Regions from separate parts of the Homo sapiens genome. Here region 1 is linked to region 2. Evidence: fine-mapped expression QTL. A gene starts in region 2. The other region holds a variant in brackets. All regions are shown on one strand. Distances are from middle to middle. Region 1 has its middle 86 kb from the start of PFDN4. Region 2 holds the start of DOK5 (docking protein 5).

Evidence for each region. PIP is the estimated chance that this variant, and not a neighbour inherited with it, causes the effect. A credible set is the group of variants that fine-mapping cannot tell apart.
Region 1: its variant is the best candidate, but not a certain one, in a credible set for the expression of DOK5 in subcutaneous fat (GTEx, PIP 0.88).

What each region holds. Positions count from the first base shown.
Region 1 is chr20:54,291,998-54,296,392 of GRCh38, forward strand. No RefSeq gene overlaps it. Among named protein-coding and RNA genes, the nearest start is that of PFDN4, 86 kb to the left of the region's middle. The variant G/A (reference allele first, on the strand shown) is at 1,766.
Region 2 is chr20:54,473,927-54,478,321 of GRCh38, forward strand. DOK5 (docking protein 5) reads left to right here and starts at 1,667. Exons shown (of 8, transcript NM_018431.5): 1 at 1,667-2,086. The coding sequence starts at 2,021.

The DNA.
Region 1 (4,395 bases), 180 kb before region 2:
TCTGGAAATTCTGACTCCCTCTCCCCACCTAACCCACAGATATATCTCTAGCTGGATGAGTTGCGTGTTTTAAGCATGAACCAGCCTCACCACTCAGTACTGTGAATTTATAAGTATTAGTTCTATTGCAATCTCCTTGAGAGGTAGGTCTCCTTTTCATTAATTTACCCTTAGCAATTAGTATTGTAGCACATAGCACATTGTAAACCCTCTCTAAATACTGGTTGACTGGCTGAATGGATCTGAATTTCCCAACATCATTAGCTCTATACAATTTAGCATCGAGCTGGATTTTTCCAATGAGGCAAACACGTTCTCATGAAGCTCTTCAAAGACACACAAGGAGAAGGTTCTAACACATGGGCCTGATGAATTATGTGTTTTTGATGACTCATTAAAGGAAGAGGGAGAGGTGAAACCAAGGGTTACTCTATTCCAGGAGGCAGCGTTGTGTAATGATAAACACACACATTTTGATGCCTCCAAAGTCTAGGCTCAAATCCTGGTTCTGTTCCCTACCAGCTTTATAGTATTGTGCCAAATTTCTCTGAGCCTCAGTTTCCTCATCTCTCAAGTGGGAAATATAATAAGCTTATGCCTTAGCTTGGATTTCCCTGAAAGCAAATTCTGAGATAGGGATTTGGGTGAAGATAGTTTATGGGGGCAGGGAGGGATGGAGGATCCTTGGTATTGAGAATGAAGTAGTGGGAAGAGTAAACAAAGGACTAAGAAAAGTCATAAGCATTTTGATCAAGAACCTGCTGAGAAACATAGGGAATGCCTCCCAGAATGGTTCATTAGAAGGATGGGAGGTAGGTCCCCCATTGGTTGAGGGGTGTCCTCAACAGTAGTAATTCCTTCGCAATGGCTTGTCCCAGGTGAGCCTGTTCTCAGGAGGCAGAAGCAGAAACTGGGGTGCTTGAGGTGCACCTGAGACTGAACAAAGCTGGCCTCTGCAGCTGCAGATGAACTCAGAGGTCACAGCACCATCAATGTCTGTTACAGCTTTCCAAGAGGATCCAGTGAAATCACATTTGCAAAGCCAGGTATCACAAGTGCTCGAAAAATGCTAGGAGTGTCACCCACTCAGTGCTGCTTTGGGGAGCTTCAGTTTCACTCCTCACTTTCGAGAAGTGCAAACAATTCTGTTGACACTTTCCCATCCTTGCATTCTCTCTCCTTCCTCTTCTTCTCACTCTGTATGCCCTCAAATAAGAATAAATCTTGTCTGGATGGCAATAAGAAGCAAATCTAATCAGATTTGGGAGATGTGGTCAAAGCTCAGAGAATAAACGGTTATACAGATCCTTTCCCGTTCCGTTTCTGTTTCCAGCCTGCCATTTTTACCTCACTGCAAAGAGAAAATGGAATTGATGGAGATATAGGAAAAATATGTATGTATGTGTGTATAGATACAAACCAATATATCTATATATATTTACATTGGTACCCAGTAAGAGTGAAAACTCTAAATGGTTGTTGTCAGGGACAATGTGTGTTTTCCCAGATTTTGTTCTGTGAATTGAAACCGACTTTGCTATTATAAATGCATCACTATAATTGCCCTGATTTAGCCTGGCAGTTATGACTCCTGCTCAGAGCCAAATGTCTCCCAGCCAAGACCCAGTGAGCTTGCCAAATTGTTTCACCTCTTTTATTGTCAGAACTCATCGCCCCTCCTCACACTGTTGTGCTTTTCTATAATATTTTAGGTATATTAATCATAAATCCTGGAATTGTTTATCTACAAAAAATTGAAGTCAGG[G/A]AGTCATGGAATAGTCATTTATCATGGGCTTTGGCTCAGTGACTTGAAACTAAAAGTAGAAGAAAAACAAAAGCACTGATTGTGTAGAGGTGGCCAAATGCCTGGAGGTTAAGTGAAATGAAATTAAAGAAAAAAGAAGTCCTCTCTGATCCTTAGCAGAAATTATTCACTTTCTGAAAGAAGCTTTTTCTCTATTGAGACTTCTATTTGGAAATGTATATTATAGATTTTTTTTTGCCTGTTAATCTGCTAAATGTTCATTTAACAATAGAAAATGTTTGATAATAAAACCATTGCTTTTTCTGATAGAGGTACTTCAATTATGAGGATTTTATAAACGTGTTCTAAGTATTCAATGCTTAATAGTGGGGTTGCTATACTATTGGGTGAGATATCAACCTGGTGTGCTGGCAGACTTACTTCTACACAGAAAGAGACTTTTTGAGAATGAAGCCAATACAAGCAAAACAGAGCCTAGATGTTGATGACACCTGATGGTCCTGGATACAACCATGCCTGAAGCTGGTTTTCCTGCTGCATGAGCTAATATTCCAGCTTTTACTTAACCCATTTTTAGCCAAATTTCTATAACTTGCCCTTAAAAGTCCTAATTAATACATTTGTCCAGCATGTCACCTGCTTTTATCATTTTTAAGACAAAAGTTATCTAACTCAGCCTGAAATGTAAAATCTCAAAGAAAAGTGCGTTGAATATGTGCTGCTGAAATGTGTGCTTCCATCATTAAAAAAATCCACCTGACATTTCAATTTAAATAATGGACTTACAGCTTTCATTAATATTTAAAATAGCCTTGTATGTTTTGCAAGATTAAAAGTGATACAAGCAGAATCAGGGTTATTATTTAACAGGACAGGTGACTTTGTTTATTTAATATTATAATAAATGTTATTAAATATTGAGATAAGAACATTTAACATGAGATCTATCCACTTAGGGAATTTTTAAGTTTACAATACACCATTGTTGGCTATGGGACAGTGTTGTAGATTATATCTCTAGAACTGTCCCATCTTAATTAACTGAAATTTGTGCCCAACTTTCCCACTTCCCTCTTCTCCAAGTCCCTCATTCCAGTCTTTGACTCTGTGAATTTGTAGTTGTAAAACACACTAAAAAGTTATCACAGGCATTTTAATGTTCTGGAGGCTTGACCAACATCTGCTGCATGTCTAGGTATTTCTGAAGTCATCTCTAAAAAGGTAAAACTTGGAAATAATCCTATTTCAGTAGAGTAATTGACATCTTGCAGATATTATAATAGAGCAGAGAAGTGGGATCAAGTTATCAAAATGTACTTGGCATATTTTATTGATCGTTTTTTTCCTGGTTTAAAAACTGAGAAAAGGAAGCCCAGGTGTTTGTAAACAACATTTCATGTGACCCATCTCCATATATACCACCTTCTGGTAGCTTCCACACATTTGATCTACTCATGCCTTTTCCATACCCCACCAAGGTCATTTAGTAAAGAGAAGGAGAGATTTGGAGTGTGCAATCACAAGTGTGGATAGTGAGAAGTGATTAATAGAAGTAGGTAGGCAAAATGCATCTTCTGTAAAAGGGATGTGGAGCTGTTGTAGAGTTGTTCTCTAGTTTACACCTTAACAAATAGCAGTTTAGAGATTGCTTGTGGGGGTTGTTAGTGTGTTAGGTTATAGGATTAGCTATGTTGTTGTGGCGATTTGCTTAATTAATGGCAACAACTGGATGTTGAAATTGGGTGGTAGTTTGAATGTTTGGTAGCACATGATTCTATCGTGGAGAGTGTTTATGCTTTTAAATGATGATGTTTTAAAAAGGCAAAATCCTGACCTTCATGCAAATACAAAATGAAGATGTGTCAAAGATTTTCTTTCATTTATTAATTGATAAGGGAATCAATAAGATGTTACAACTGGTGCAAAGGAGAATCCAAAGAACAGACAAATATATAGCTCATCAAATGCTGAAATGAATTTCTTTAGTAAATACAAAACTAGTCAATATCCACTGGACAATAATCAATGGCATGCCACCAAATATAGTTGGCATTCCTGTGGACAAGAGTCATTTCCATTCCTCTTAGTTTTTAGCTCAAAGACAATGAAACATGGAGATAACCTTGATGTATGAGCTGGACAAGGAATCTACTAATCTTAATTTTGTTCCTAATGGAAAATCTTTCACATGTCTTCATAATGTCTCAGCACAAGATGCTTCTTTTATGGGAAATTTTGTCTTGCTATCATGTTTAGAATAAAATCCCAACTCCTTAGCATGACCACAGAAACTTTACAATGCGAGTCTTTCCTATCTTCCTGATCTTATATCTAACATCTTCCCACTTCTTTCCCTGCCACTTCCTACTCACTTTTTTCCCCTTTGCCTTGAATGTCAGAAACCTCCCAGAGTTGAGCACCTGGTGTATTAGTCCGTTCTCACACTGCTATAAGGACATACCTGAGACTCAGTAACTTATAAAGGAAAGAGGTTTAATTGACTCACAGTTCAGCATGGCTGGAGAGGCCTCAGGAAACTTACAATCATGGTGGAAGGGGAAGCAAACATGTCTTTCTTCACAGGGAAGCAGGAAGGAGAAGAATGAGAGACAACTGAAGGGGGAAGCTCC
Region 2 (4,395 bases):
CCTTCCATGAACACCTCTATTTTACAGCAACCATGGGCAGCATTTTTTTTTTTAAGTTCCAATCCTTCAAAAGGAGCTCTCCAAATGATTTTACCATTTCATCTCTTTTGGTGAGAGATTTAAAATTAAAACATCATTTTCCATAGAATGGCAACATGAAGACAGATGGTTTACTATGTAGCAAAAATAGTTCTCCCTGCCAGAATATCTCCTTTTTGATTGTCCCCATTTAGTCTCGGTTCTCCTATGACACATTCTTGGAGGTTTCTGTTCTTTAACTGAAACTCATCAAGCCAAGGTGACTAAAAGCTAATGTTCCCAGTGAGAATGGGAAGATTCATATCGTCTTAGAGTTGAAAGACCTGTGGATGTCATCAGGTCAAACAATCCACTACTAACTGAATCCTCTTCTCAATGGCTCTGAGCAGTGATCTCTAGCTTTAGCTTTGTCGCTTCCCAGTGAGTAAGAATTTTTGTCTAATTTCTGATGATTATCTTTGCCTTTGTGAATAGTGCAAATGATTAGAAAGATCTTCCTTGGAAATCAACTAGTAACCTCTCTTTCTGTGAGATCCTCTCTTCAGAAGAGGAATAGGAGAATGTTTAGGAGCAGAGCTGGGCACTACACACACCTCCCTTCAATCCTAGCTCTGATAGTGGCCAGCTGTGAGACCTTAGCAAGTCTGTAAAATGTGGATGCTGGTGCCTAATTCATTATTCCCTTAACAAGATTAGCACAATGCCCAGCACACTGGTGCTCAATGTGTGTTAGCAATTATCAATCAAGTATGCTTTAGGGAGGTAATGCAGTCAGGGGCAGGTGAGTGTGAAATTCAGTCCCCTTCTTCATCTTATTGTATAGGCAGTATCTCATAATGGCAATGAGAGCTCTATTGCCAGGCTAAGGAGGCTTAATTAAATATGGGCCTGGTGTATACATTAACAGGGCACCTACCTCAAAAAGTGCAGGGGAGTTTGAATGAGTCAATCCATGCAAAAGGCTTGGAGAGTGCCTGGCACCTAGGTGGCCATCTTGATAACCACAAGGATTTACTGAGCACTTGCTCTGGGGTCAGGCTTTGGGGACAGACAGTGATGAGGCCAAGTCTCAGCCCCCTGGGAAACACATTCCGGCGGGAAAGAGGCTGAAACAGGGAAACTGTGGCAAATGATACCAGCGAGGGCTAGGTCCCTGACACAAGGAAACCCAAGGAAGCATTTGGCTTAAGCGGTGACAATATCCCTCTCCTCAGATGCCAAGGTCAAGGCGAGCCGCGGCAACACCATCTCCCCAGACACACACGCAAAATCGGCCCTTCTCGGGGAAAGGGCAGGGGCTGAAGGGGGAGGCGGGGTGGGCGGCGGCTGGAAAAAAGTGAAATTTCCTCTCCTCCTAAAATAAGTCATTGGAGCGAGGAGAGCGAGCGCTATCTCAGTAGGCTGTGGGCGAGGTGCGGGGGTGGCGGGGGCACGCTCCGGGTCCGCCAGGAGGGGAGGGATCGGAAGGGGAAGCGGGGAGGGAAAGGTGGGTGGGAGGCGCGGGGAGCGTTCCAGGGCGGCTGCTCACGGGTGGCCGCAGCCCAGTGCTGGGACTCGCGCGGCTCCTCCTCTTAGCCCCCCACCCCTTCCTCCTCTTTCCTCCTCCTCCTTCCTCCTCCTCCTCCTCCTTCTTCTCCTCCTTCTCGGCCGGGAGGAGGCAGGGCTGGATCCCTCAGCCGCCGCCGCTCCTCCTCCTGGCAGGCCGGCCGCGGAGTCAGCTGACGCCGGCGCTCCAGCCTCGCCTCCCCGCGCCGCGCTCTGCGCTCCCCGAAAGTGGCTGCAAGCCGGCCGCCCACTGTCAGGGTTGGGGGGACAGAGAAAGTGATGTGCGCCTTCTAAAGCCTCGCCCAGCGCCGCCGAAGCAGCTTCACCTCTCCAACTTTCTCCCACCGACTGCTTGTCTTGACCCTGCCCTCCACCCTCCCCAGAGCCACTTCGGGTGCGCGCTCTTGGGTAAAGGGGGGGTCACCGGCTGTCTGGGATGGCTTCCAATTTTAATGACATAGTGAAGCAAGGGTACGTGAGGATCCGGAGCAGACGCCTCGGGGTGAGTATCGATCCTCTCCGTGTTGCTGTTCGCCGGTTCGATTGTCTCTCTCTTGAGCCAGCATCCCTGGAGGGTGGACGGAGAGTCCCCGGCCGCGCGCCGGAGAATTGCGCGGTGGCTTTCTCAGCCGAAACCCGCGTCTCCGGGGCTGTCACTGTAAGGCCAGCGTCTAGGTATGTAATGGATCTATCTTTATCTCTTGGATGACTTGGCTTTCTGATGGTGGCCGCGTGTTGGGCTTCAGTAGCCCCTGGAGCCCATCTACTCGAAATAAATATTTCTCGGTAGCCATGGAAGTTGGAGCTGAGAAGCCCGGGCGGGGGTGCCTGCCGGATGCCCCCGGTTCCCCTCTTTTCCCACTCGCCGCCAACTTAACTTTTCCGGGGGATGGATCGGCTGGTTGAGAAAGAGGACACGCATACTCGGTGTGAACGAGGTCACGAACCCTCTGACCCCAGGGAGAGATTTCTGCCAAGCGTAAGGTGTCTTTGGATCCCCCCACCTCTGTCCCAGGTGTCGTGTCAAAGGCGGTGCGGGCTGGCCTCTGGTCGGGGCCAACTTGGGTAGATACTTGAATCTGGATTTTCCGTGGTTCGAAGCCGGGGTGGTGGATTTCTGTTGCTGGAATACACCCTGGAGGTCCACGGAAGGGTTATTTACGTGGAACCTGATACCTGGCATAGCGCAAGTGCTCCCTACATATGTCCTGAAAGGAAGAATGAATGAATCTTAGGGCACTTGGGACAGATGTTGACACAGGCTAGCTCCTTCCTTAAAACTCCCTCTCTTTCGCCCCTTTCTCTCTTGGCTCTTCGCTGGAGGAGGCTTCAAAAGAGAACCTACCCTTCCTCTCCTTGGGACTGAATGATGGTGGAAGAATTCTTGAGGGAGAGGGAAGATACTGGAACGATTTTTTTATTTCCTAAAAATTTCAAACTAGGTCCCTCATTTCTCTTTGCCTCCTATCAAGTGTTGTCGCTGTTTTAGTTGATCCTGTGCGTTTGGACATAAGGGGTGAAAAGTGGGGGTGGAGAGGTGGCGGGGGCGGGGGGAGAAAATATCCTTTGGTGTAATGCCTGAAATAAGTATAATGTCAGTAATCGTGTGGAATGCCGCCATTGATAATGAGTGGTAAATTGAATAGCTTTCTTTAGAAATATGTGTCATTTGGCATCTTTCTCTTACTTGGTCTTTGGACTGTTTTAATGTGCCAGATACTTTTACTGAAAACTGAAAAGAAATTTCACAGTAGTAAACTCAGCTAGGGAGGGAAGCCCTGTGGGGAGGAACATCCGCAATTATTATAAAACTCTTGCCTAATTCGTTTTGGTCTTTTTCTTTTCTTTTTCTCCCCTGCTGGTGACCATGTTTTAGCGATTATGTCCTGTGTTATTGTGAATATATACATATGTAATTAGGGAGAAATGTAACAGAATTCACCATTTCCATCAGCTCTGCCAAAGTTTCCTTGGTTTTCTTTTCTGCTATGCAAATATTCTCATCTTCAAGAGCACCCATTGTTGGGGGTACTTTACTGAGTGACTCCCATGTAAGGGGCAAACAATAATGGGAACTTTCTATTTTTGGTATGCTTATAGGCTGGCCAAGTGTTACAATTTTAAGGGGAGTTAAGTTAAAAAAAAAAAAAACCCAGCATTCTAATTTAGCTTTACTCCATCATGTCAATGGAAGGAATTGGTATGAGACATCCATTCTGTGTTAGGGAGCATTCCAATGGGAAGAGGACATGCATTATTAATGCACAAAATATGAATTATTCATAAGGATCAGAGTTTATGCCAAATTGTGACACATGGTAATTTATTTGAAAAACTGGTTACCATCACTTTCTTGTTTGTGGTAACTGAGATTATTTTTTCTAGATTATTACAATTGACACAACATAGCCCTATGTGTGTGCCAACATTTATGGACAGATATTTGAAGCAGAAGGAACAGAAATATTTAGTTTGTATTTGTTTTATGTTTTACAGCATTTTGGATGCTAATGAGCAGTATACTTTCTCAAGATTTATTCTTTTTGTCTGTGTTCACGTTCAGACTTCAGAATATCTATTGAATTATGGTTATTGCTCATGGAGAGAAAAGGTCAAAAATATGATCAAGTAAATCTGGTCTTATTTGTTAGCATTGGTTTTCTCACCAGTTAATTTTTAAAATATTCTTATGGTATGATTTACAAAAGAGGCTGATTACATAGTTGCCAGAACACAGTGCAAACCAAAGTTTTAATGGAGGCTGCAAATATTGGTGAAGGATGCTGTACGGAATTGGCATGGGGACCCTAT